4 separate regions of the Homo sapiens genome follow, and all the other regions are reported to be linked to region 4. Evidence: microRNA targets listed by miRTarBase, many of them from high-throughput screens and not tested one by one. Region 4 holds a microRNA gene; each other region holds the end of a gene's coding sequence.

Region 1 (7,112 bases), not on the chromosome of region 4:
GATATTGGCTCACTGCAACCTCTGCCTCCTGGGCTCACACGATTCTCCCGCCTCACCCTCCTGAGTAGCTGGGATTACAGGCGCACACCACCACACTGGGCTAATTTTGTGTATTTTTAGTAGAGACAGGGTTTCACTATGTTGGCCAGGATGGTCTTGAACTCCTGACCTCATGGTCCGCCCACCTCAGCCTCCCAAAGTGCTGGGATTACAGATGTGAGCCACCGCGCCCGGCCAAATAAACTTTTTATTAAATCCAATTCTGGAAGTGATATTGATGTCATACATGTATTAAGCTGGAAAAGTATGAATATTAAAATAACATTTAAAACTTCCTACTTTTAAGATAATTCACCTCTTAATTACAAGGAAAAGCACTACATGTCAATAAACATTTCGAATTTACAGCCTACTTCTTCTATTTAGTCTTACATTAAATTAATAGTAAATATAGCTATTGATCTATTGGTTGAACAACTCAATTTCTTGGATGCTAGTTATTATCCATGGTCTCTGCTGCGCACAGTGGTAAAGTCCTACACAACTGCAGTTCTAAAAACTGACATCTATAAGGACCTATCAAAAATTAGTTTATTTTTCATTATTTTTAGATATTAAAATCCTTTCATCTCCAGTATCTGCCTTTTAGCCATTTCTCTAGCACAGAGTCTGGAATATAATTGGAACCCTATAAATATCTGTTGGATAAAAGAACATTGTTAATTTCCCTCAGAAAGTCACACCATCATAGGAGATTTAGCAATCATTATTGACAAAAGAATCAAAACTCATGGCTCCTTTTATTTACCCCACACTCTTTTGGTCATGCTTGTCCTCAACACATTGAGGGAGAATAAACCAAGTCCGGAGATGCAGCAAGGCCAGGGAGCAGGGTCTTGTGAACTCTGCTAAGGAGTTTGGGCTGATATCTAGGAGTCATGGAGAGCTTCAGACCTGGAGGGTGTTAAGCAAGGAAGCTTAAGAAGGTCAGGAAGCAAGGAAGGTCAGAATTGTGGTGGTTGAGAGAGGCCACTCGGGGTCTGTATGAAGGATGGATGGATGGATGGATGGATGGATGGATGGATGGATGGATGGATGGATGGATGAATGGGGTAGAGAGACACTGGTTAAATAGCTACTGAAAGGTCCGATGCAGTTGCTCATGTCTATAATCCAAGCACTTTGGGAGCCCAAGATGGGAGGATCACTTGAGCCCAGGAGTTTGAGACCAGCCTGGGCAACATAGCGACATTCCATCTCTACAAAAAAACAAACAAAAATTAGCCAGGTGTGGTGGTGCACACCTGTAGTCCTAGCTACTTGGGAGGCTGAAGCAGGAGAATCACTTGGGCCTAGGAGTTTGAGGTTATGGTATGCTGGGATCATGCCACTGCACTCCAGCATGGGCAACATAATGAGACTGTCTCTCAAAAAAAAAAAAAAAATACTGAAATCCAAGTAAAAAGGAGATGGTGGTCTAAACCAAGATAATGGCAGAGGAGATGGAGAGAACAGATTCAATAGACCTTTGTAAGGCTGAGCTGAAAGAACCGAGTGACTGACTGCAGGTGAACAGGAGGGGAGGGAAGAGTCAAGAATGAGGCCCAAGTGTCTGGCAGAAGCACAGGGAGGAAAGTCACACCATCATAGGTGATTTAGCAAGAAGGAAGCCAATTTTAGACATATTAGATTTGAGGCTTTTCACCTATAGAAGATTCTAGCAAAAGCATGCTAGTTGCAATTTAAGATATAGATCTGAAGGTCAAAAAAGAATTAGGATGGAAATATACCTTTTTGGATTTTATTCCAGATCAGTATTTTATTTTTTTTACATATATTGAAATCTCAAGGTAAAAAGTTGAATACAGTTAAGACCAAAGGCTTATTCTTAGATTTCTGAGCTTGAAATATACTATTGCCTATTAGAAAACCAAATGGCTATAAAAGGTATTTATATTTTCTTTAGATATTTAGACACTTAATACCATCTTCAGCATTAGAGTTATTTAATGGGTTAGGAATAAAAATGCATGATCTTTGACTTTCTTCTCTGGGTGAAGTACATTTAGAAGACTGCTCCTATTGGTTCTATAAATATGCCAGGGGAGCTCATGTAAGAATAGGTACTTCTCAATATGCCAGCATTCATGCCCATGTAGTAATTAGTAGTTTAGGTGGATAAACTCCAATGTATCTGGTGGGCTCTGACACACTCTCCTGAATACCGCCCTCCTTTTGCATCCTCAAATGGCATGGCACACCCCATAGTCTTAGTCCACCAGACAAATCCTCTAAGTGCCCCTCTTCATATTTGTGAAAGGAAGGTATTTTTTTTAAAACATTTGGTGAAGCTGCTTATAGTTGTAGTTGGGAAAGTGGGCTTACTAGCTATATGATCTTGAGCAAGTTATTATTTCATCTTTTTGACCTTGGTTGCCTCATCTGAAAAATAGAAATGGTAACAGTACTTACCTCTTGGATTTATGAATTTTAGTTATGCAAAAGTACTTCAGAGCAGTGCCTGCGGCATATTGTGTGTACTCAATCAGTATCTGTTATTACTAAATACTTCTGTTGAAGACAAAATTTTCTTTCTCTTAAGCTCAACATCACTACTGATGGAAAATCTTGGAAATAATTATTTCAGATCAGGTTTTCCAACCAGGAACAGGATTTCATATTTGAGATATAACATCTAATGCTAGCCCCTCTCTGAGAACTCCTAGGGGATCTGAAAAAGGTCATTGTAGGATGGAATCTTACTAAGCAAAGTTAAGAATGATAAGGTAAACTGTTAGGAAAAGGATTTCCATATGACTAGGGGATTAGGGCCACAGCAGCAAGAGTTAATATCTGAAGTTTACTGAAGTAACAGTTCTACAGCCCTAACTGGCATGTACCCATCAAAAATGTGGAGATGTAAGAGAGTTTAAAAATAAAAGCATAAATTAAATTTAAGTAGTGAGATTTATCATCATTTCCATAAAATGAGAGCTGGTTAATCAGGACAAATAAATTTTACCAAATGGATGTAACAGGGCCAATGAAACAGTGACATACATGTATGGTAAGCAACCTCAGAAACAGGAAAGGCTGTACTTCCTTTTCACCAAAGAGACAATTCTGCTCCCAGAAAGCTTAGCTATGAATACACTTGAAATGAGAGCTTTACCAAAGCATGAACCTAGGACACATGCTTTTAAATTGGCAGTTAACATTCTTGAAAGCAATGGCTTAACAATGGTTATTAAGTGATGTACTGCTTAAAGTAAAACATGGACTATACCTGATTACAAATTACATCCAGTCTGTACAAGTTGAATACATACCATACTTTAATAACCAAGACAATTCAGCTGTTTTTCCAGAGTATATTTCAAACAGAGTTGGCATATAACCCGTATGTAACAATATTGCTGTGATTTTAGTCATATTTAAGGGTCCAAAATATGTTCACAAAAGAACAGTTTGTGAATGTCAACCAGTTTTTGCTTTATATTCCTTCAAAAACATTCCACCCTGGTCATTCACACTAATCTACATCACTGAAAATAACCAAAATAATTCACAGTCTCACCTCTATGTAAAAATTCTAATTGACTCAACAGGGAAAGGACTGCCCTGCTCCTTTTGAGGAAGGAAACCTGCAAGGCAAGTTCTCAATCCCTAAAACCAAGCAAAAATGTTCCAGTGCAGTTGCTGTAGCCATGTATTTAGGATTTGTATTTATAGAATTAAATTTGAGAATGAAACATGGCCATACACATCGCAATAAGCTGCCTCTCATATCAAAAATACAATGCAAAATGACTTGAAGACATTTCCAATAACACAGATTTGAAAAACTGAACGCTTAGACATAACTCCTGCATCTTTCTTTAATTAAGAAGTCATTGCCACACTTACAAAGTTAGAGGCAGTAATCTATATTAGCGTGTGATTAATCAAAGAGTACACTTACTACCATGAACTTGGGCCCTATGTCATAGAATTATTTTTGCCTTTCCCCCAAAGAATCATTTGCTCTTGAAGTAATAGGCTTTTTAAGGCACATTTTAACAAAAACCCATCATATACCCAGCTTAAACATGGAAGCTCCAACCTGGTTATAGTAATAAATATACCTAAGTAATGTGTGATTTACCAAATAGGCTAGTGTCTCTAGCTTGAGGATAAAGTCATATTAGAAAACTGATTCTTCATTTGCTTATTCAAAGTGAAACAACATGTAAAAAATATTAGAGAATTAGATTTATAACAATAACCCCTAAGTGTCAGGTCTGTTGGCAAAGGTCCAACAGGATATAGCTCTGGAAATCAGGGAGCCCTGGGCTCCTAACCATCCAGGTTTCGGAGTAGGAATCATGAGGAAAGGAGTTAGGGCACCTTAATTATTTTTAGAAATCTCCTTTCAAAATGCACAGAACCTTGGGAGGCTCAAACCTTAAACACCAACCAGATATCATCTTAAATTCAGTTACCAGCTTCAAAGAAACAGGACTTGGGGAGAGGAAGGAGAGAGGTTGGAAAGAAGCCACAGAGAGAAGTGGGAAAGTTTAGGCTGGGCACAGTAGCTCAGGCCTGTAATCTCAGCATTTGAGGAGGCCAAGGCAGGAGGATTGCTTGGGGCCAGGAGTTTGAGACCATCTTGGGCAACACAGTGAGATCCTGTCTCTACAAAAACAAAATTTAAGAATTAGCCGGGCGTGGTTGTGCACACCTGTAGTTCTAGCTACTAGGGAGGCTGAGGTGGAAGGATCCCTTGAGCCCAAGAGGTAACAGTGAGCTATGATTGTACCAATGTATTCCAGCACAAGCAACAGAATGAGGCCCCCCTCTAAAAAAAAAAAAAAAAAAAGTTTCAAGTATAAGTTGCTTTAGGGACTTTATATATTTTGCTAGGACCAACTTTGATGTTCTTAGGAGGCTCTGCTTTAAAAAAAAAAAAATCTCATTTTCTAATGCCCCACAAGCATGCCTTAGGGTGCTAACCCTTGAGATGCACGTAAAATTATCTACTTGGAATGATTTGGCATAGGGGTAGATTTAGGACTCTTAATTTCCTGTTAGTCTAAAGTAAACATAAGTGAAATAATTTCACAGAAACAATTACACAGCTAATTGTAATGTCTCTCCAGCCATCCTTTTCCCACTGACCTTTAGGGGTCTTCAGGATGACTCTTCAGCCTTGCAGAGCATGCTGGTGGCAGGCTGAGCTTGGCTTAATCATAAGGTGGGAACAAGTGGAGTACATGAGGCATGTTATCACCAGTGAGAAGGAGATGTGGAGGTGACAAAAGTGACTAACAGGATTGAGCTCCATGGTGGGGTTCTGCGATTTGTTCTATTCACTATGGTCATGGAGCAATAAAGAACTGGTCCTGAATAAGCATTTTAAATGCAGCACACCAGACCATCGCACAGGGCCAAAAGTCCAGAATTGTATCTATGTTTTTTAGTCTGCAGTTGCCAATCACATACTTTTGGAACAACTTTAGGCCTCTGATGTTACTTTAGCCCTGGGTGGTAGGTACAGAAAAGCCTCCAGAAACCCTACAATTCAGTGACATTCTTACTTCTCTCCAGTGTTCGGCACCATTTTGGAAATCTGGTCCCAAAGTTTCAAAAGAATACTAATGCAACAAAAAGAAATAACCTCTCTGTATAAAGTGATTATAGAGATGTGTGTTGAGGTAAACAGCTTCATAAAAACCGTTGAGCAGGGAAGCACAGCCACTGCTATAGAAATTTTTAGGTAAGTCTGGTGCTAGCATTATTCTACAAAACTGTTTACACCCATTATAAATAGGGGACAGTTCTTATTGCTCCTGGAGCTTGTAGCTCCAATCTGTTCCAGCTCCACTGAAAAATGATTTTTCTCAACAATTGGTAGCAAAGATTTCCAAATTTACAAAAAGTCATTACCAATGCATCACTTTTTGATTAATTTCTGATTGCCATATAGATATGGACTACAGTATGCATGTCCTTGACACCAAGTACAGAAAAAAAGCTTAGAAAAGTCGTTTTATCAAAGTTCAGTTCAATGAGAAACATGAAAAAGTGCAAAATATGTACAATTCCTGGCAGTTCTCACACGGGATTTTTTTGACTACAGACCATAAAAGTTTACATTTGTGTAATGAAATGACAATGGATTTCACATCACTGTTAATATACAAGTTTTTGCTTCAAAGTGCTTACTTTATTTATAAAAGAGAAGATCAAGAGGGTTGCAGGAATTTTTTTTTTTTAACAACAAATCAATGGTATGTGTCCCAATCTCCTTCTTCCTCTTCCTTTAGTGCAACATGGCGCAGCAGCCTCATGGATAAGGTCTGATTTCAAAAGACATTCCTGAAACCTCACCTACAGCAGCACTCTAGGGGTCCCATTAGGGGTGGCTCTCTTTTTCTTCTGCAGCCGATTCTGAACCTTTCGAGATTTTACTACTTTCATTCTCACCTCAAAAACTTCATGAATGGCCTTCCGGAAGCAATGAAAATTATAGTCAATTAGCCCTGGAGAAGAGAACAAAAATATTTATAAATGTCACGTAGAAATAATCTCCATCTTTTCATGGGACCCATGGCCAGGACAAGCCAGTAGGGGGCAGTAGAGGATGGTCTTAGCGTAAGGACCAGAGATTTCCCTGGGATGTCTGCAGCTGGCCTTCAGAAATTGCTATAAATCTTTAGGAATTATAGGCAAAGTCTTGTGAAGGAAGATTTTTCCTGATGCAAGGTTGCAGAGCATAGACCATATTTTCAAAGGTTCCTATGACCCAAAAGATTTAAAGAACGACTGAACTGAACTTTTTTTTTAACCTTTCAGAATTAAAGATTTCTTACAATTAAGAGAAATCTGTAATGAAAAATGTTTCTCCCCAAAGGGCATTATTAGACTGAGTAGAGGCAGATCCTGACTTGGGATCCCAAAGCTGTGTATCAATCAATAAATATTTACTGAGTATCTATTATATTTAAACCATTCTCATAAGCCCGAGGGAAAGCGAAGCCCCTAATTTTAGAGTGTTAACAGTCATCTCGCCAACTCCAGCAGAAATTCAACAACCAATGACACTCAGCTTTTCAGTATTAAGTATTTTAAGT
Region 2 (7,126 bases), not on the chromosome of region 4:
ATGTTTTTGGCTACAAGTAACAGAAAACCTAATAGTGGCTTAAGCATTAAGAGTATTTATTATATATAACAAAAAGTCTGTAGATAAGATTGCTTTCTAATTGGAGTATTTTTTGACCTACCTCTTAAGGTAGTTGTGAGATAGTGACTGTAAAGTGCTTCATAGCTTGGATTATTTATAGAAAGCATTCATTAAGTGCTATTATTTTTTTTAAATATAGTCATTTACATTTCAAGGGGCTGAGTCTACATTCAGATCTTCAAACTGTTAAATTTATACAGGTGATATATTGGTGTCCTGACCAGGAGACAGGGTAAAAGTAGTCTCATACTTTATAAAAAGAAGTCTAAAACTTTTTTAAAATTAGTTTTATATTTTTAAAATGTAATCTCTTAGGCTTATAATCTAAAGTTTTAAAATTAGGCATGCTTTAATGTAACCTCATTCTAGAGCAGTAGTTATTTTTAAATTATATTCTAAAGTATTTCTTTATTGTAACAAAATTATGTTGTTTTCACAGGCCTTGCAGTTGAAATTCAGCCATAAAGAAAATGAAGTGATTTAAAATTGCAAATTTTTGTTACTTCAGTAGTTGTTAATATATAATTTTATTAAAAAGGTTTATTGAAAATCGTGAGGCACTTTATTGTATGGATGCCTTTAAACTTAGTAGACAAAGGTTTCTTTTTTTCTTAATCGAGAAACTTTCAATATTTTACAGTAGTTTGAATTACTGCTAACTCTAACATACTGCTTGTTTTATTATCTTTAAAAATTGAATGTGCATATCCTTGATATGAAGAAAATCTCATCAGGCAATTGACCCCAAATATGTCAGGGTATCTAAATTTTTGTCACTTGTAGTAATTTACATTTTTTTTCCTGTCCTTAGATATATTATTGTGTATTGAAGGAAGTATTCATGATTAAATTATTCACAGTTACTTGATGAAAGTATTCGTCAGAGTTTTCATGGCTGGTGTTATTTTAAATTTTAAGCGTATGTTGGATTGTGAAGATAGGAGAATAGGAACAAGACTTAAAAAGCTTGGAATTGGGGTCTCATGATGCTTGAGCTTTTGTACCCATTTTACTGTTTACTAAATCATTTATTATATTTAATAATTGTCAGAATATTAAGATAACTTGATTTTTAGATATCTAACTTTATGTTTTGTTTGTTTGTATAGGAAATGTTTTTCTAAAACATGGTTCAGAACTGCGGATTATTCCTAGAGATCGTGTTGGAAGTTGTTAATATCTGCTACTTGGAACATACGATTGCCTTTCAGAATAAATATTGGTATTTTTTGTTGTTGTAAAATTGAAATCAGGCATTTAACATACTATGAAAACACCAGGAGTCAATGATTAATGAAAGGTGACTCATCTGTCCCTTTTTGTTGTCCATACTCTTCCTATGAAGAGGGAATGCGTATGAATTAAGGCTACTACTGTCACAGAAGATCATAGTCTTTGATGCTACCTCACAACACAAACAGGTAGTTCGTTGGGGGCAAATGAATTAGCCAACTGTTAACTGGAAGCTTTTGATAATTTTTTTTTTTAGAACAATTTGGAACATTAAAATTTACTGAATCGTATATATTCATCTGAGATAAAAATATAAAAAGAATTATGGACCCTGGATGGCAATTTGCTTGATAGCATCTGATTTGCAGACTCATAATTTGATTTTTAATTAAATATATAGGTTGTGATGAAGTGAATAGACATATCAGTGAACAGTTAACTATATTAAATTTTTATCATTTACTTTTTTTAAGATTCAGACCTCAGTTATATAAATTTCAGTTTAATATCAACCAAAAAATTAAAATTTTAATCTAACCCTTATGTGTATAAATTGGTGTCCCATACCAGCTTTTAATGGTGGACCTATAGAATCCAGTACTTTTAATGGTGGGAATTTACAGTAGAAGCATCCTTTGCTGAGTTATACATTCCTTTATCAATCTCTTTTGATACAACATTTAAAACAAGTAGCTTCAAGAAACCACTGGTGTTTTGAGGATAGTATTTCTAAATAGCATTCAGGAACAGAGTATTATTGCACAGATCTGAAGATCAAAAAAAAGCTCAAGGAAATACAGATCGGAAGTGCTGATGAGTTATATTTATTGAAAACCCAACTTTTAAGGAAGTGCTAAGATCAGTCACCCATGTGAATAAGAAGCCAGGAAAGGAAAGATGGGGAAGCCCAGATCACCAGGCTTCTATTAAGGAGGAAAGCAACAGAGGAAACAGTGAAGGGGAACAGAAGGGGGTAGCAAAGTGTTACAGAAAAGCGGACTGGATAGACAAAACTGCAGAAGGTGTATGTTGGGGAGAACTGAAAGGGAAAACAAAATACTTGACATAGTCTTAAGTAGAAGAAGGCAGTTAGAGAAAACAAAGTATCTACTGGCCTTGTCAACATACAGACTTCAAAATACCCCTTATGAGAATCCAAAGAATGATGTGTGTAAGGGAAGATTTTATTTGCCCTTCCGGAAGAAATCAGTATCTATGCAAATCTTGAAAGACGAAATCAAAGCCCATTAATGATTCAGAATCAGTGCTTGACCTCCTGTATTCTGAATGGTGAACTCTGGAAGCAGGGATTGTGTCTGGCTCTTTTTAGAGCTGGAAATGTAGTGGCTTTCATTAAATACTTGCTGTAAAGTCTTTCTAAGACCAATTATTATCTTAGCATGTTTCAGTATCTTCTCTATCATAGGCCCTAAGTTCATTGGGGGAAAAAAAATAAGAAGATTCAACAGAATCAGCATTTGAAGTGTACCATTGGTAGTTGTTTATGAAATTACCAGATATTCATAAATGTGACAAATGAACAGCAGGATTATGAATTATCAAAGGAAAAAGTATTTGCTGAGGTGAAAAAATCTGATGTTTGAGGAAGTTTTTATTTTTATTTATTTGTTTTGTTTTTTTTTTTTTGAGGCAGACTCTCTGTCGCCAGGCTTCTCCTGCCTCAGCCTCACGAGTAGCTGGGACTACAGGCATGCACCACCACGCCCAGCTAATTTTTGTATTTTTAGCAGAGACAGGGAGGAAGTTTTTATTTTTATAAACAAAATCTGATGTTCAGAGGCCCCGTTTCTTACAATAAATGTTGAGTCTTAGTTAAGCAGGAATTTATGAACACCCATTTCCTGACTTTTTGCTTTAATTTAGATTTTTCTCCATCCTGTTTCTAGCACAAAAATTTGCCTGCTGTGTTACAAAAATAAATTTATGTTGTCCTGTGCCATAAAGTGATATATTTAATATTTTTATTCTTTGGTTTTGAACATTGTAAGTTCCTAAAAACATTTTATTAAACAAGTAGACATTTTGTTATTAAAAAAATGTGATCTGTAATTTCTTTGTGCAGAATGATTTGAAGTATTGTATTCAGTTTACATGCGTTATTGGTTTATAATTAATATCTAATGAAAATACATGTTGTTATATTGTAAACCATATTGTCTGTTCTTATTATTAGAGCTCTTAATCAGCACACCTTTTGAGTCAGTATATAATACATGTAGTAAAGAAAAAAAGGGCAAAGATGATTAATGACCATAAGTCAGAGAAATTAGTTTATAGTCATCTGCCACAGACATAGTAGTGATGTTTCGTCCAACAACAGACCGCATATATGACCGTGGTCCCATATTACTATATTTTTACTGTGCTTTATCTATGTTTGGATACACAAGTACTTACCATCATTTTACAGTTGTTTACAGTATTAGGTACAGTAACATGCTCTACAGGTTTGTAGCCTAGGAGCAATAGGCCATACCAAATAGCCTAAGTTTGTAGTAGGTGACATCAACTAGGTTTGTACAAGTACATTCTGATGTTCACATAGTGACAAAATTGCCTAAGGAAGCATTTCTCAGAATTTGTTCCTGTGATTCAGTGATACATAACAGTACTTGCAAATGCCTGTCCATTTTACAGACGGAAAAAAAAAAAAAAAAAGTTGAGAAGAAAATGGGGTTATTGTAACTGGCTAGGTTGGTAGGTTCCAAACCTGGGTGATAACAGAGTCGCCTAGGAAATTAAAAATACAGATTTTTGGAAACCACTCCTTGAATTCTGATTTATTACATCTGTAATAATATATAAAGATCCTCTGTAAACAGGAGTTCTGGTGATTTCTGCCATGCAGGTGGTTTGAGAATTAATGAGAAGGCCACCTTTTCACTTTGTAGAAGAACAGAATGAGGTCTAAGGGGTCAAAGTAAGTAGAATATGTTCTGGAATCTTGGACAGTGCACTTTCCAATGCTTGGTAAGTAGCCTGAGGTGAAGGTGCTAGCTAACAGTCTCACTCACTGCACAACCTTTGAAGTTTTTCTCCGGGAGGTGGGGGGCAGCCCCCGCCCGGCCAGCCGCCCCGTCTGGGAGGTGGGGGGCAGCCCCCGCCCGGCCGCTGCCCCGTCTGGGAGGTGGGGGGCGCCTCTGCCCGGCCGCCCAGTCTGGGAAGTGAGGAGCCCCTCTGCCCGGCCGCCACCCCGTCTGGGAGGTGTACCCAACAGCTCATTGAGAACGGGCCATGATGACGATGGCGGTATTGTCGAATAGAAAAGGGGGAAATGTGGGGAAAAGAAAGAGAGATCAGATTGTTACTATGTGTAGAAAGAAGTAGACATAGGAGACTCCATTTTGTTCTGTACTAAGAAAAATTCTTCTGCCTTGGGATGCTGTTAATCTATAACCTTACCCCCAACCCCCTGCTCTCTGAAACATGTGCTGTGTCCACTAAGGGTTAAATGGATTAAGGGCGGTGCAAGATGTGCTTTGTTAAACAGATGCTTGGAAGCAGCATACTCGTTAAGAGTCATCACCACTCCCTAATCTCAAGTACCCAGGGACACAAACACTGCGAAAGGCGGCAGAGCCCTCTGCCTAGGAAAACCAGAGACCTTTGTTCACATGTTTATCTGCTGACCTTCCCTCCACTATTGTCCTATGACCCTGCCAAATCCCCCTCTCCCGAGAAACACCCAAGAATGATCAATAAATACTAAAAAAATTTTAAAAAAAAAGTTTTTCAAGTCAAACATTCTTTAGATAAGTTTTTCTTAGAACTAGCTGTTCAAAAGAAACGTTAGTGGGAAGAAAATGCAATCCTATTTAATTCCTCTACTCCAATATTAAGATATTAAAACTTAATATCTTCGCGTAAAAAGATGTTTTTTACGCGAGGACCTTGAAGTATTCCTGAATTGGAAGCATTGTTATACTTTAATGGAGTGATTCTAAGTTAACTGATAGTGTTCCTGAGGCCATTTATAAAACCACACAAAAAATAATGATTTATATATGTAATTCATCCTAAAGAAATCTGTTGAACATCTACTGTGTGTCAAATATTTTGACGGATAATTTCATTTTTATTTACCCATTCTTTATAACAATTCCAGGTTATTTTCCCCTTTTATAGAAAAAGAAAGAGGCTTAAGTTGAGATTTGAAATTTAAACCCATGATTTGACCCAAACTCTGCACATTATACGGAGAAATTTTTAGTATATATTTTCTGTGATATACTAGATGCGTATTGAATCGCAGATTAAAAGTAAGAAAATATGTAAGGCTTAAATTCCATGTCAGAGTACTGACTGTGTGTAATGATAATGAATGGCCTTACTTTTTTAATACGTGGTGTATATATGGTATAAATATGATAAAATTCTAGGATATTAATTATAAACCAACCAGTAGTGGGAGTAGGGACTATGCCGCCATATTCATTAGCCTATCAGACATTGTGTTTTTTAATTTTAGTGTATTTTGCAAGTGAAGCTGCAAGGTTAGTCTCCTAATAGCCCACTTTTTCTACTAGATTGCTGCCCATAAACTTCTTTAATACAGAAATTCTGGAAGTGCCCTCTATTGGTTAGTGCTGGTGATGGGTAAATCATTACTCAAACTAGGCCATTAAACCATTAATTGAAATAAATACTCTTGAAAAGTTCAATCTATCCAACCTATTAACCATATCCTTCAAATTGACTAAGGTTCTCTTACCGTCAAATCTGTTACTCCTGATTTTCCTTTCTTGATGTATCAAGACAATCACAAAATTCTCTTGATGTTGTTAACAGAATATCTCAGCCATCCCCACTGTAACAAAAGCCCTCATCTTCTCGTTTATACTAAGAGCCTCTAGTCTCTTCATTTCCTCTTTCACACTTGCTGTAATGAGTTTTTTTATGCCATTTCATTAATCAAAATCCTACTGAATAAAAAATCTACACTGTCTGTGACATACGAGGCCCTTCATGAACTGGTCTGTGTTAGAGTCATCTGCTACTACTACTCTCTTCCTTACAGTTTCCTTCCCTAATTTACACCGCAGCTACACTGAACCACAAATAATGTTTAGTTATCTGTGATGTGCCATGTTCTTATGCTTTCATTTCTTTACTTACCCCATTTGTCTGCCTGGAAAACCTAGGATTTATTCTTTAAGATCAAAAGCCATTGAGCCTTTCCTCCCTCCTCCAAAGCAGTAGGTATTAACTGTCTAAGCAATTTTACATTTTGTATATTCCTCCATTCTAGCAATTACTAAATACAGAATTACTTGTCTCTAAAATATAAATTTTATAAAAGTCTAAGACCATGACTGAAACTAGGTTTCCAAATCGCTTTGCCCATAAACAAAAAGTACTTTATAATTGAAAAACTACATAAAAGAATATTTTGAAAATTAGAACTGTGTCTCATACATAAAGTAACTGCTTTTCACCAGATTATTTGGTTAACCGGTATACCCATGTTGCCCACTGTTTCTTGTAGCAGAAATTTACTTAAATTAACTACTTTTTTTAATTGTAAAACATTCTCTTATTTTTAAACAAACATTATTAGCTATATGCTGCATATTGTTAAATACTGGAGACGAAACATGATTAACATCCATTCATTCCCATTTCTTGGACTTTCCCAAATTTATACATTTCAAAAACACCAAAATTACCTGGTCTAGTAATCATGGACATGAAGATGTGTAACGAATCCCTTTTTATATGCTGGGCACAGTGTGAGGCACTTTACAGACATTGACTCATTTAATCCTTAATCCCTTCACAAATGCCAGTGTTA
Region 3 (7,126 bases), not on the chromosome of region 4:
GTGGGACATTTGAGTGGGCTTCTGGAAATCCAACATTCTAGAAGAAAGCCAACCACAAAAACTTTTGAGGAGGAGGAGAAACTTCTCTACCCTTGGTACTTTTGGTTGGTTGTGGGTGGTTTTCTTCAGTCCATTGTACTGATGTTCACTTTTTCCTCTCTTCCTGCCAAAAAAAGAAACCTGCTCCTCCAAAGCCAGAGCCCAAGCCTAAAAAGGCCCCTGCAAAGGTAAGTGCTAACATTGGAACTGATCATTTTCACAGAATGAGGACTGTCCTTAGTGCCTTAACTTAATTAGCATAATGGTGCCTCCATTAATGGAGGTTATAAACTGTGTGGATAGCTTACCTCGTCCGTGTCATTCATAACGTTGGTTTCCTGATCAAGAATTCTGTTGTTAGTTTATAGGAAAATCTGCATTTAAATATTAAATACCCCAGGGTTTAAACTAATTTATTCTTCTGTTACTTAGGAAATTCTAAGTACTAAAGATTATAGCAAATTACAGATAATTTAGCCTAGTTTTGATCAGTTGTTCTTGTCAAATGGGTGAGGGTTTGTGTTTTATCTTGAGTAAACAATCCTACCTTGTGCAGAACTTTGCAGACCATACCTTGGTAATACGAAATGGGGAGAAACAGTTCTATTTTTTCCCCTTTTTCAGAAGGGAGAGAAGGTACCCAAAGGGAAAAAGGGAAAAGCTGATGCTGGCAAGGAGGGGAATAACCCTGCAGAAAATGGAGATGCCAAAACAGACCAGGTATAACTGCTGTTTCACCCTTTGTTAGATTTGTTCATTCAGTTAGTTGCTGATATCAAAAATTTAATTGCCCTTTTCTTGTATCACTCCAAATGTACCATTTGGTCCAGTGTGCTTGTGGCTTTCCTGTTAACTTAAATCCTGGATTCTTGAAATCTCTACTGTCAGCTGAAGGGCATTGTGTTTTATACTACATGAAGTTTTCAAGCTAGGAGTAACCTCAGGTCTCTTATTCTGGTGTTCTTCCTACCTCAATTTTACAGTGAGGCCCAGAGGAGAGGTGACTTAGCAAAGTTACCTAGTAAGTCATTCTCAGAAGAAATACTGAGTCTCAGTACCTGAAACCTGAACTTTGGCCTGGGAGCAAAGTGATGCTGTAGGTGGAATGTGAACACAGATAGTTTTGAAATCTACGCATTGCATTAATTTGTCTGTTTTCTTTTAGGCACAGAAAGCTGAAGGTGCTGGAGATGCCAAGTGAAGTGTGTGCATTTTTGATAACTGTGTACTTCTGGTGACTGTACAGTTTGAAATACTATTTTTTATCAAGTTTTATAAAAATGCAGAATTTTGTTTTACTTTTTTTTTTTTTTTAAAAGCTATGTTGTTAGCACACAGAACACTTCATTGTTGTTTTTGGGGGAAGGGGCATATGTCACTAATAGAATGTCTCCAAAGCTGGATTGATGTGGAGAAAACACCTTTCCCTTCTAGTTTTGAGAGACTTCCTCTTGGCTCCCAGGAGGAGGGATTCCCTGACTTTGACACACATGGCCACCTTGGCACAAAAGCCTTGTGGTATAGAAAAACAAATTTGTTTTTATGTCCTCTTCTCCCTTTCCATCGTTCAGCATAGACTTAACTCCCTTAAGCCCAGACATCTGTTGAGACCTGACCCCTAGTCATTGGTTACCAGTGTGTCAGGCAATCTGGACTTTCCAGTGATGCCACTGAGATGGCACCTGTCAAAAGAGCAGTGGTTCCATTTCTAGATTGTGGATCTTCAGATAAATTCTGCCATTTTCATTTCACTTCCTGAAAGTCAGGGTCGGCTTGTGAAAAGTTGTTAAACAACATGCTAAATGTGAAATGTCAACCCTCACTCTAAACTTTCCCTGTTCAGAGCATCAGATGAAGACTTCATTGGGTTTTATAGTGGCTTTCTGATTTTTGGTAGTCCATTGAAGAAGGGAGTTTGAAAGTTGTTGTATACTGTTAACGATTGTCTGCCCATGTCCTGCCTGAAATACCATGATTGTTTATGGAAAGTATCTTTAATAAAGCTGGATACAGTTTGGCTTGGAATGCTGCCTCTGATCTTTTCCCACAAGTGGGGTAACCTGGTTTATCCAAGTCTCTTGGAACAGGGTACGTTCTGCTTTGAGGTACTCCATGTACAGTCTAATGATGATCTTTCACTGATTTATAGTCAGCTTCCAAAACACACAGTGCTAGGTGCAGTTAGGAAGGATTCCAGGAGTAGACTTAGCTGATGGTGAAAGGCTGGGAGTATGGAGTGATTTCTGTACTTGGTTATGCAGCATTCCCTGCAGTGTTTGTTTTTTGCATGACTCCGAATACATGAAGTGTATTAAATGCAGATTTTTGGTAGATCTGCGGTTTTGGCTGGGTAGCTGACAGGAGCCTCTCTACTTCCATCTGCATTTGCAACTTCTATAAAATTAGCAAATTAATAGACTCATGTCAGAGAGTGTCTCTGTGAATGTGTACACAGTTGTCCATTTGTAAGGTAGATGACACTTTGCTCCTAAGTAGACCTGCAAACAAAGACAATGGGGTCTTTCCTGATTCCTTTAGTTTGGAGATGCAGAGAACCCCACGTTTCTCTAAGTGAAATGGCAAGAAGTTATTTGTTAGAATATGGAACTGGTAACAAATTCATGTTTGCACCTTGAATTTGCTTTCACAGACCTGGCTGTATTGTTGGACAGGAATAAAGTAAATTGGAGACTAATTGCTTTGTCCATTCCCTTAGTCAAAAAAGTATCGCTGTTAAGTTCTTGAGGTTTTTTGTGTATTATCTCTCAAGTGTTGAGATGTTTGTGTAATATATGTATCACACTCATGGATGAGGAATCAGGCACAGATGAAACTTGTTGAAGGTTATGTGTACATTTAATGAGCAGCAGAGTCAGGATTCAGACCCTCAACTAGACAAAAGTCATCTCTGACAGACTTTTATTCAGGATAAAATACCATTTGTCCATTTAGCCAGTTACCAGCCATTTACTTTCATTATTGCTGAAGTCATTCATTCTAGGTTGTAGACGGGTAATTTTTATTCTAAAAGCGGTGTCCTCTTCCAGAGGAAACTTAAGAGACATCTTAGAATGGTCAGGGGTAGTGGGCTGGTATTTGAGCAGAGGTTGCAGAATTTGAGAAAGTTACAGCTGAGGTTCTTTGTTAGTGGCAAGTCTGCTAAGCCCTGGGCTATGCTAACAGCTCTGCCTCATGCTCTTTAATCTTTGAGTCAGACCTATGAGATACAGGTGTAGCCCCATTTTGTAGTCGAGAGTGAGGCTCAGATGTGAAGCGACTGGCTGAGGTTAAACTTGATAGTCTGTTTTTACTTATTTTCTGGCCCTCTTCTTGTTGCCATATAATTAGGATGAGTAGGGTAAGCTTGAACTTTTTCGAGTTTTTTTCTTTTTTTCCTTCCTGGAAAATACTGATTTGACTGGCTCTGGACCATGAAAGTAGCTGGGCCTAAAACCAAACCAGACATCAAAACGTGGTAAGGACCATTCACTAAGACAGCCATGGTAGCATGCTCAGTGCCAGCCCTGTCTCCAGGCCCATTCTTAAGATCTCGGGAAAAGTCACCAGATGCTTGGGCTCTAAGTAAAAAAAAAAAAAAAGTAACATAAATGGCACAAACTAGAGGATTCATCTGATACAAGTCCCGAGGTCGGGCAGTTGTGAGGACCCAGGTGGGCTTCCTGTCTTTCTGCTCTGCCGCCCTCAACATGTTCTCCAGCCACCTCACCTTCAAGGCAGTTGCTCCAGACATCGTAATTTGCCATACCAATGGCAAGAGGCTGGAGGACTGCTCCTTTTTTCCCTGCATTTAAGAAGAATGAAATATTTCCTACAAGCACCCCAGCAGCCTGTGTTTCACTGGGCAGATCTGGATTGCCTCTCCACTCCTAAACCAATCATAGCAAGAGGAATGAAACCACAGAATCTGCCTAGACCAGTCAGAATTGTTGGAATTCAATAGAGGAGGGATGATGATAGAGGAAAATGGCTGTTGTGTGGACAGCCTGCTGCACGGTCTCTTCAGGCCTGGCCTGATTCATTGCAGCAGTTAACACTGCTGAGAATTACCCCTCCCCTTCTTTAAATTGAGAAATAATCATATACCATTAAAAGTCACCACTTTGGGGGGAGGGATAGCATTAGGAGATATACGTAATGCTAAATGACGAGTTAATGGGTGCAGCACACCAACATGGCACATGTATACGTATGTAACCTGCACGTTGTGCACATGTACCCTAAAACTTAAAGTATAATAATAATAAAATTTAAAAAATAAATATACTTAACGCTCTTGGGGAAAAAAAAAGTCACCACTATATCATTATTTTAAGAGATGGAGTCTTGTGTTGCCCAGCCTGGTATTCAACTCCTGGGCACAAAGCAGTCCTCCCACCCTGGCCTACCAAAGTGCTGGCCACCACACCCAGCCAAAATTCACAATTTTAAAGCATATACTACAGTGGTTTTAGTACATTCACAACATTGTGCAACTATTGCCACTATCTAATTCTGGAATATATACGTGTGTGTGTGTGTATATATATATATATAAATATATGTGTATATATATATAAATATATGTGTATATATATATAAATATATGTGTATATATATATATATATATATATATATATATATATATATATTTTTTTTTTTTTTGAGATGGGGGTGTCTCACTGTGTCACCCAGGCTGGATTGCAGTGGTATGATCTCAGCTTATTGCTCACCGCAGCATCTACCTCCCAGGCTCAAGCTCCCACCTCAGCCTCCCAAATAGCTAGGACTACAGGCACACACCATGCCTGGCTAATTTTTTGTGTTTTTGGTAGAGACAGGGTTTTGCCATGTTGCCCAGGCTAGAGTCTTGAACTCCTGACCTCAAGTGATCTGCCCACCTTGGCCTCCCAAAGTTCTGGGATTATAGGCATGAACTACCCTGCCCAGCCTCTGAATATTTTCATCACCCCCAAAAAGCTCCATGCCCATTAGCAGTTAACTCCCCATTTCTTCCTCCCCCATCCCTAGACAATCACTAATTACTTTCTGTCTCTCTAGACCTTTTCTGGATATTTCATCTAAATGGAATCAATCTGTGTTTTTTCACGACTGGTTTCTTTCACTTAGCATGTTTTCAAGGTTCATCCGTATCATATGTATTTGATAACTTGTACTGCCAAATAACATTCCATTGTATGGATATATCACATTGGATAAGTCACATTTTATTTACTCATCAGTTGATGTACATTTGGGTGATTTCCACTTTGGGACTATTGTGAATAATGCTGCTACAAATATCATATAGAAGTTTTTGTAGGCATATGTTTTTAGCTCATTTGGGCACATACCTAGGAATGAAATTGCTGGGTCATATGGTAACTCGTACTTTTTTCTTTCTTTCTTTCTTTTTTTGAGACGGAACTTCGCTCTCGTTGCCCAGGCTGGAGTGCAGTCACATGATCTCGGCTCACTGCAACCTCCTCCTCCCAGGTTCAAGCAATTATTCTGCCTCAGCCTCCCAAGTAGCTGGGATTACAGGCATGTGCCACCATGCATGGCTAATTTTTTGTATTTTTAGTAGAGACGGGGTTTCTCCATGTTGGTCAGGCTGGTCTTGAACTCCCGACCTCAGGTGATCACCTGCCTTGGCCTCCCAAAGTACTGGGGTTACAGGTGTGAGCCACCTTGCCCGGCCTTTTCTTTCTTTTTAAGACAGTATTGCTTTTGTCACCCAGGCTGGAGTGCAGTGGCGTGATCTCAGCTCACTGCAGCCTCCCCCTCCTGGGCGATTCTGCTGCCTCAGCCTCCCGAGTAGCTGGGATTACGTGTGCCCACCACCACACCCGGCTAATTGTTTGTATTTTTAGTAGAGACAGGGTTTCATCATGTTGGCCAGACTGGCCTCAAATTCCTGACCTCAGGTGATCTGCCCACCTTGGCCTCCCAAAGTGCTGGGGTTACAAGTGTGAGCCACCATGCCTGGCCTCATTTATTTATTTATTATTTTTTATTTTTTGAGACAGAGTCTTGCTCTGTCTCCCAGGCTGGAGTGCAGTGGTGCAATCTCTGGTCACTGCAACCTCTGCCTCCTGGATTCAAGTGATTCTCCTGCCTCAGCCTCCCGAGTAGCTGGGACTACAGGTGCCCGCCACCACACCTGGCTAATTTTTGTATTTTTAGTAGAGACAGGGTTTCACCATATTGGCCAGGCTGGTCTGGAACTCCTGACCTTGTCGTTGTGATCCGCCTGCCTTGGCCTCCCAAAGTGCTAGGATTACAGGCATGAGTGGGAGCCACCGTACTGGCTTTTTTTTTTTTTTTTTTTTTTTTTGAGACAGTCTTGCTCTCTCGCCCAGGCTGGAGTGCAATGGCGCGATCTCAGCTCACTGCAACCTCCGCCTCCCGGGTTCAAGTGATTCTCCTGCCTCAGCCTCCTGAGTAGCTGGGATTACACGCACCCAACATCATGCCCAGCTAATTTTTGTATTTTTATAGAGAGGGGTTTCACCATGTTGGCCACCAGGCTGGTCTTGAACTCCTGACCTCAGGTGATCTGCCCACCTCAGTATCCCAAAGTGCTGGGATTACAGGTGTGAGCCACTGTGCCCAGCCTGTGCATCTTTTTTTAAAGAAGTGTCTATTCACATCCTTTGCCAAGTTATAATTAGGGAGTGTGTGTGTGTGTTTAACATGCTTCTCAGGAAAGTATTCTTTGTGGGTTGTTTTTATTGTTGAAGTGTAAGAGTTCTTTTCTCTTACTTTTCTTTCTTTTTTTTTTTTTTTTTAGAGTGAGTCTTGCTCTGTCACCCAGGCTGGAGTGCAGTGGCATGATCTCAGCTCACTGCATCCTCTGCCTCCTGGGTTCAAGCAGTTCTCCCTGTCTCAGCCTCCAGAGTAGCCGGGATTACAGATGACCACAACTGTGCCCGGCTAATTTTTTTCTATTTTTAGTAGAGACGGGGATTCACCATATTGGCCAGGCTGGTCTCGAACTCCTGACCTCAGGTGATCCGCCTGCCTCGGCCTTCCAAAATGCTGGGATTACAGGCATGAGCCACCTTTTCTATTCTTTCTTTTCTTTTAT
Region 4 (7,126 bases):
TAATGATTCAGACACAGAACAGTCTTTTAGGGATTATTTTAAAAAGATTAACTTTCTTCACACTTTGAGAATTTATAGGTAAGCAGATGAGGGGATTCTTGGGCCACATTTATCTTTCAGACTTCCAGCTCACTGGCAATCTAATAAGTTATTCACACCCGTTAGAATATGAGCAGTAAGATAAAGAGCCAGCAGACATATGGTCTCATTATTCTGTTCTTTTTTCCTTTTGATTACAATATGCTATTTTCATGTAGGACAGGCCAGGATGTATTTTAAGTCCCTGGAGCATGTTTCCCTGAAGGTTGCTCTTAAAATTCTGTGTTCTGCCAACTGAAGGGAAATTTGTTTTTGCCAAAACACAGTAAATAATTGAGAGCAATCTTAATCCTTGGTTCTTAGTGGTTCACTGGCTTCTTTTTGAAGCTCATCACCTTTGTGATTTGTGATCTTTTGAGTATAATTGGCTGCTTTTCATTAACACTTATTTACTGTATACATGGGTGTCAATATATGTTTAAGTATGCCTGGTTCTTGGTACATTTATGATAACTTGCTCCATTCATTTTATATTAAAAACAAATTTATATTCTGACAGCATACTTTTCATATATTTTTTCTCTTATTAACTGTTTTTTGTTTGTTTGATTTTTGAGATCTTTTTAAATGTATGGTCACCATAAAACAATGAGTTTAAACCTTTATGCATTAAGAAAATTGATATTTTTCATGAAAAATGATAGTGTTGCATCGAATTATGAATCTAGTTTACTTCTAAGCGAAGACTAGATAAGTATTTGAGAACATTCAATGGACAGCAGTTCAGTCTTAAAAACCATTAAGTTTTTTCAAAGATCTGAGACTGATTCACAGCTTCTTTTACTAATGGTGTGTGTGTGTGTGTGTGTGTGTGTGTGTGTGTGTGCACTTGCATGCGCGCAGCGTTTTACACCAAGGAGGTAAGGGTGCAAAGAAAAAACTCTGGCCCAGGAATCATGGTTTTTCCTTTGGGGTTCCTCCTCTGCCATGAACTACCTGGGAGTGAGTTGAACTAGCTGAAATCTAAGGTACGGAATATCCTGGATTTATAATTCTATGATAACTCATTTTTATTTTCTTTTTTTAAGTAACTGAAATATGCAGTATTATAGCATATAAATTATTTCCGTCTTTGTTGAACTCATGATTCTAAGAAAATAAGTTTTATAATGACTATTAGAGTACTTCATTTCAGTCTGAGGATTGACTAAAACCTTATATATCATAAAATTAGTACAGAAAATGCTCTGAAAGTGCTAGGTAACACCCACAATTTCAAAATCTTTTGAAAGGTCAATTGAGCTATCATTTGGCATTTTTATTACAAGTTTTTTATTTGGAGGGGGCATGTGCTTCAGATATTTTCAGTTTAAACTGCACCTAGTTTATTTTTTCATCAATTGAACTGTCAAATCTGTTAAAATAACAGAAAGGAAAAAAAATTCTTGTTCTCCTTTTGTAAGAGAATATTTGAGGTTATGAAAAACCTTGTTTTTTTTCCTCAGAATATTTGAGATTTTTCTGCTCTGCCGTGAAGCACTATGGAACAAAACCAGGCTAAGATAATTCCATCAAGCACTTAGCCACACCCACAGTGCCTAGAATGTACGTAGTAAGCATGCTTAACAGTGGTGCTTGTTGCTGCGGTATTCCTTATGTCATGAGACAAGGGATTTTTTTGTATTTCAAATAGTTTTTGTCTAATATACTGTTACTGTATAAAATTCAGAAATAAAACCATTTTGAAGAAAGCCTTATCCTATATCACTAGATGCCACTAGAGAGTTATATGGGTCTCTGGATTCTACTATAGAAGACACTTTGGTTCCGTTATTTCTGGCAATATGTATATGTTTGTGGTGCTAAAATGGAAAATTTTGAAAAGTCCATTTCACAAATAGCTTCCTTTTTTTGGTGTACTATGGTTTTCACAGCTTTATTGAGGTATAATTTACATACCATAACATTTACCTATTTTAAGTATTCAATGATTTTTAATAAATATATGGAGTTGTGCAGCCATCACCACAATCCAGTTTTAGAACACATTTCTGTCACCCCAAAAAAGATCCCTGCTGCCTGATTGCAGTCATTTTTTTCCTCCCATCTCTATCCCTAGACAATCCGGATCTGTTTTTTGTCTCTAAAGTTTTGCCTTTTGTCTATGTTTCATATAAATAGAAGCATGTAATGTTTGGTCTTTTGTGACTAGATTTTTTCAGATTTAGCATGATTAAGGTTCATCCATGTTGTAGCATTTATCAGCTGTTCATTCCTTTTGTTACTAAATTATATTCCATCATTATGCGTTTTTACATTTATTGCTAAATCTTTGTATTATATCAGAATTTTTAAATTAGTGAATGGAATTATAGATTATAGTTTTATTCAATAGAAGTTTCTGTGGTGATGGAAATGTTCTGTGTTAAACTGTCGAATACAGTAGCTACTAGACTTTAAGAAGCCAGAGGGATGTGTGGGTGGTTGACCTTGTCTAACTGGGCCCTTCTCAAACTCTCCTACTCATGCCTTCACCCCATAGGGCAGGACCTCAACTGGCCTAGCAACCAGGTTGCCTCAGGTCTTTGGCCATGCAAATATTATCCTTCTTTGTGTGTGTGTGAAGTGAAAAGGGATGACAAACACTGACTAGGGGTCCCTCCTCTACATTCCCATTCTGCTGTAGGTACTAATTGGATGGGATTGTCATTGCCTGCTTGTTGTACTGTTCTTCAATCAGATTAGGAACTTCTTGAAGCAGTTCTGTCTTATTTTATTACTATTTTTATCATAGTGTCGCACACAGTGTCATTCACATGGGCAGCTAGTAAATACTTGTAGAGTCAACAATTGAATTATTTTTGTTTCTGATTATTGTTATCATTATGGTTCAACATAGCACTAAGAAGAGGAATTTTTCTTTAATGTTCATGTTAATCTGATAACTTGGTCTTACAGATAAAAACTAGCTCTCTTCCACCACCACCACCACACACATCTTTTACGTAAAGACTTTTATTCTTAATTTTTGGCAGAACAAAATTATTTTGTGAAAGCCTCAGGACTTATTCTATTAATAAAATAAACATCACCATTAACTGTGTTTGACCAAGGCTATGCTTAATATCTAGAATTTAAAAAGAGAAAGGGAAGCCTCCGTATACTTCAGTCCTCAGCTCTGGCAGCTGCCCATCGGACAAAGGAACAGGACGATGATGCTGGCGTCGGTGCTGGGGAGCGGCCCCCGGGTGGGCCTCTGCTCTGGCCCCTCCTGGGGCCCGCACTCTCGCTCTGGGCCCGCTCCTCTTCCGCCACTGCCATGGACCACGAGAAGATGGTGCAGGAACACTCCAGGGCTGCCATCTCTTTCTTCAATCAGTCAGCTATGAACCTGACAGCTGAGAAGCCATCTGTCATCTCACGCTGTCCAGGACCCTCTATCCTAGCTGCTGAGTCTTTTCCACTCTTCTCCACTTTAAACTCTTTGTGGACAGAACCTTCTCTTTTTGTTGTTTTCATACCCAGTGCTTAGTACAGTGCCTTATACATTAATGTTTGTTGGATGATCTGGTAGAAATGACAGAATATGGAATAAATGTGTCCTGATTCTGGTAGAAATGACAGAATATGGAAAAAAACCGTATCTTGATTCAGGTAGACATGACAGAATATGGAATAAATGTGTCTTGATTCAAAATGGTTGTATAGCTAACATTTTATTTTTACCTAGAGATGTTGTAAAGTGTTACATAAAGATGTATGTGAAGCATTAACACTTCCAGCCCCATGACTTAAAAAATATATATCTATACATTTAAAATTTTCCTGAGAGTCAGAGAGATTAAGTAACTTGGTCAAGATCACTAGTAACTGTCAGAGCTTGGAATCAAACTCATATTTGAATTAGGAGAGGTTCCTTGTAACTACTCTGCCAAGGAGTCTTTCTAAGTTATAGCACTAAATTTTTGATCACAGCTGAAACTCAGTAGATTTGAAATATTCATGGCTCATTATTTGCTCTCAGAGTTTTCTTTTGGCATTTACATGATGTTTGATTATTGAAAGATAGAACTTTGGTTTTGTGATGAGTTAGGGGTAATGCTTCCATACGTAATATTACTATGTTTTTAAAACTTCCCTGTGATTTATTGGTAAAGTGTTCTGTGTTTCTTTTCCCTACCTCCCTCTCTTTTGTCCTCTCCTTTTTTCCTTCTCTCTCCTCCTGCTTTTCTCTTCTACCCTCTCCCTTGGCATTCTCATCTAGCTAACATATATGTCTGTGTTATGTGAATAGATATAGTTTTTTAAAAAAGAAAAAAAGGCTATCTTTTTAAATATCAGAAGCATGCTACAAATCAAATGTTAGAAGCAAAAGAAATGTAAAAGATAATTTGATGTATACCTTATGAGGAAATAAGGATTCGTGAAGTTATCATGTTTTTTTCTAAAGCATTTTAATCTAAAATTCATTGGGTATGGTGCATTGGCCATGAAACCTGAGGAATGGGGATGGGAATATAAAACATTTAAGTGTCCTGTCCGTATTGTGAAGAAGCTCATAGTCTAGTAAATAGAGGAAATCACAATTTAAAAAAGTAATTAGCAGTAATATAACATTTTATATGCAATTTGTGATTTTTAAATAAATTAGACCTACTATAGGAATCTGGAATATGAACAAAATTATGTAGGTCAAGTTACTCAGAGAAAGTTATATAGCTGAAGTCGAATCTGTAGTTCTTAAAGTGTGGTTGGAATTTGAATACTGATGAACACAAATGATGATATAGCATCATTTTGTTTTTCTGTGGCTAGAGTCTGTTTTCTAGGCATCTAAGAGGTATTTAATTGCTGGGTTTACTAGTTCTATAGTTTTTCCCGTGATTATAGCAGAAATCTTTGAGGGTGTGCTTTTTTTCCCTTTTGAAGTGCAATCTGTTTTAACCACTAAAACATTTAAAGAAGTATGTAAGATGATATAATCTGACACTGTAGCTTTCTCTATGACATACAAAGGTCATTTTTGGTCTCTTCCTGCATATCTTACCAGCCTAATCTCTCGTCACTTCTCTCGCATACTATTTGCCAGTTTCTCTGAAGTTTCCTGTTCTCTCTGCCTCCAGGGCTATAAGTGTATTACCTTCTACCTGGATCACTGCCTGTTTACAGATTGTCTCCTCCTCACCTCTTCAGGCTCAGAATAGGTGGTCATTGTATTCTAGGAAGCCTTTTCTCACCTTACAAAAACTGAATTAGATGCCCCTCCTGAACATTCCCAAAGCATCCTGACCTCACCTTATCCTGCTGTATTTTCCAGTTTACTTGTCAATGGATATTAAGCAAGCTTCTTGAGGTCAGGAATCTTAAATCTTTGCTGTTATTACTGTCCACTGCTGTATCCTCAGTGCCTACATATGTATATATATTTTATATGTAATATATAAATATATAATACAAATATGTGTGTGTGTGTGTATATATATATAAAATATATTTATATAATTATTATTATTTTTTAGACAGAGTTTTTGCTCTTGTTGCCCAGGCTGGAGTGAAATGGCATGATCTTGACTCACTGCAACCCCCTTCTCCCAGGTTCAAGTGATTCTTCTGCCTCAACCTCCCGAGTAGCTGGGACCACAGGTGCCTGCCACCTCTCCTGGCTAATTTTTGTATTTTTAGTAGGGACGGGGTTTCACAATGTTGGCCAGGCTGGTCTTGAACCCCTGGCCTCAGGTGATCCACCCACCTCGGCCTCCCAAAGTGATGGGATTACAGGTGTGAGCCTACACGCCTGGCCACCCCAATACATTTTTAATAAATGTTTGTTGACTAGGGACATCTCTTTGGAGTTAGACAAAGGACCTTTTAGGTGGTAAATAAATATCATCTAACATATCAATTTATTTTTAAAAATAACTTATATTAGTGTCTCTGAACTATTTAACCTGAAGATATAACTATCAATTTGATCATCTTGGTACACAATGAAGTACTTTCTGTACTGTGAACGTTCAGAGCATATTTGTTAATTTAGTGTTTTAGATTTTCTTTCATATTCTCTTATGATGCTTGCCTGTTAATATTGCTATTCCAGCTATTTTTGGTGTGTGAGGAGGTGTATTTATATGTTACATATTTTTTATCCCCTTGTTTTTTATTCTGTTTTTGTGTTAGGGCTATCTCTTGTAAGCTACATTTACCTAGATTTTATTTTCATATCCATTTTGATAATCTCTACTTTTAATGGGTGATTTTAATCCATTTATATTTATTGTGATTACGGATACATGGGGACTTATTTCTACCATTTTTTGTGCATTTTTGTTTTTATCCTTTGCCTTTTCTTTCCATGTGCCTGCCCTCAGTTAGATAATCAACTTCTTATTTTTCCTCTGTTTTTCTAATGCTGTAGATTATATTTCTGTTTTTAAATTTTAAATTAAATTTTGCCAATAAAGTTTAGTATTATTCAGTATTTTTCTCCTATTATAAGTTGATGCAAAAGTAATTGGGGTTTTTGAAAGTAAGGTGGTAAAAATAAAATTACTTTTGCACCAGCTGAATATATCAAAGTTGTTAGCATGCCTTACCATCTAAACATTTCCTTACCTATCTTATTATTTTTTAGAGTTTGAGTTTTACACTTTTTAAACCCTCAAACATTACTTTAAAAATACTAGTAGTTAACATTTTAGTAATTTTCACAATAACTTGTTTCTTATAGCCCATGGGTTCCATCTGCTTCCACTTTTCTTCTTGATGAACTGCATCTTGTAAGAGCTTTTTAAAGAGATCTTTAATAGGTGGTAAAATTTCCTAGCCTTTATATATCTAAAGAATACTTCTCTTTCATTCTCAAATGATGGTTTGGCAGCATACAAAATTCTAGACAGTTATTTTTCCTCAGTTTTTTGAAGATATTACTTCATTGTTTTCTGACCTCTGTTGCAGCTGCTGAGAAGTGTACTCTCAGTCTTTCCATTGAGGTAATCTGTTTTTTTTCCCCTTTGATAGATTTTTAAAAGATTATGTTTTTATCGTTGATAGAATGCGGTTTCTTTACATTGTATCTAATATGGATTCA

Evidence for each region. The annotated mature microRNA hsa-miR-1343-3p reads CUCCUGGGGCCCGCACUCUCGC and lies in region 4 at 3,308-3,329, shown strand. An mRNA with a match to its seed (bases 2 to 7 or 8) in the 3' UTR can be bound and repressed. Matches are read on the target gene's strand: a 7mer-m8 pairs with bases 2 to 8, a 7mer-A1 pairs with bases 2 to 7 and ends in A, and an 8mer does both.
Region 1: the mRNA of RRAGD is a reported target of hsa-miR-1343-3p. Seed matches in the 3' UTR shown: 7mer-A1 at 6,081-6,087.
Region 2: miRTarBase lists UFM1 as a target of hsa-miR-1343-3p. Seed matches in the 3' UTR shown: 7mer-A1 at 2,198-2,204.
Region 3: miRTarBase lists HMGN2 as a target of hsa-miR-1343-3p. Seed matches in the 3' UTR shown: 7mer-m8 at 1,497-1,503.

Annotation. Positions count from the first base shown.
Region 1 is chr6:89,361,687-89,368,798 of GRCh38, forward strand. RRAGD (Ras related GTP binding D) reads right to left here. Exons shown (of 7, transcript NM_021244.5): 7 at 2,930-6,521. The coding sequence ends at 6,370. Among named protein-coding and RNA genes, the nearest start is that of UBE2J1, 13 kb to the left of the region's middle. RefSeq lists an enhancer at 6,351-6,580.
Region 2 is chr13:38,359,521-38,366,646 of GRCh38, forward strand. UFM1 (ubiquitin fold modifier 1) reads left to right here. Exons shown (of 6, transcript NM_016617.4): 6 at 1,191-4,099. The coding sequence ends at 1,258. Among named protein-coding and RNA genes, the nearest start is that of UFM1, 13 kb to the left of the region's middle. RefSeq lists an enhancer at 4,604-5,112.
Region 3 is chr1:26,473,909-26,481,034 of GRCh38, forward strand. HMGN2 (high mobility group nucleosomal binding domain 2) reads left to right here. Exons shown (of 6, transcript NM_005517.4): 4 at 177-227; 5 at 664-759; 6 at 1,205-2,734. The coding sequence ends at 1,240. Among named protein-coding and RNA genes, the nearest start is that of HMGN2, 5.0 kb to the left of the region's middle. RefSeq lists a silencer at 5,036-5,236.
Region 4 is chr11:34,938,581-34,945,706 of GRCh38, forward strand. It overlaps MIR1343 (microRNA 1343), which reads left to right and starts at 3,257; the gene lies at 3,257-3,340. The region is part of intron 2 of PDHX (pyruvate dehydrogenase complex component X); the gene reads left to right.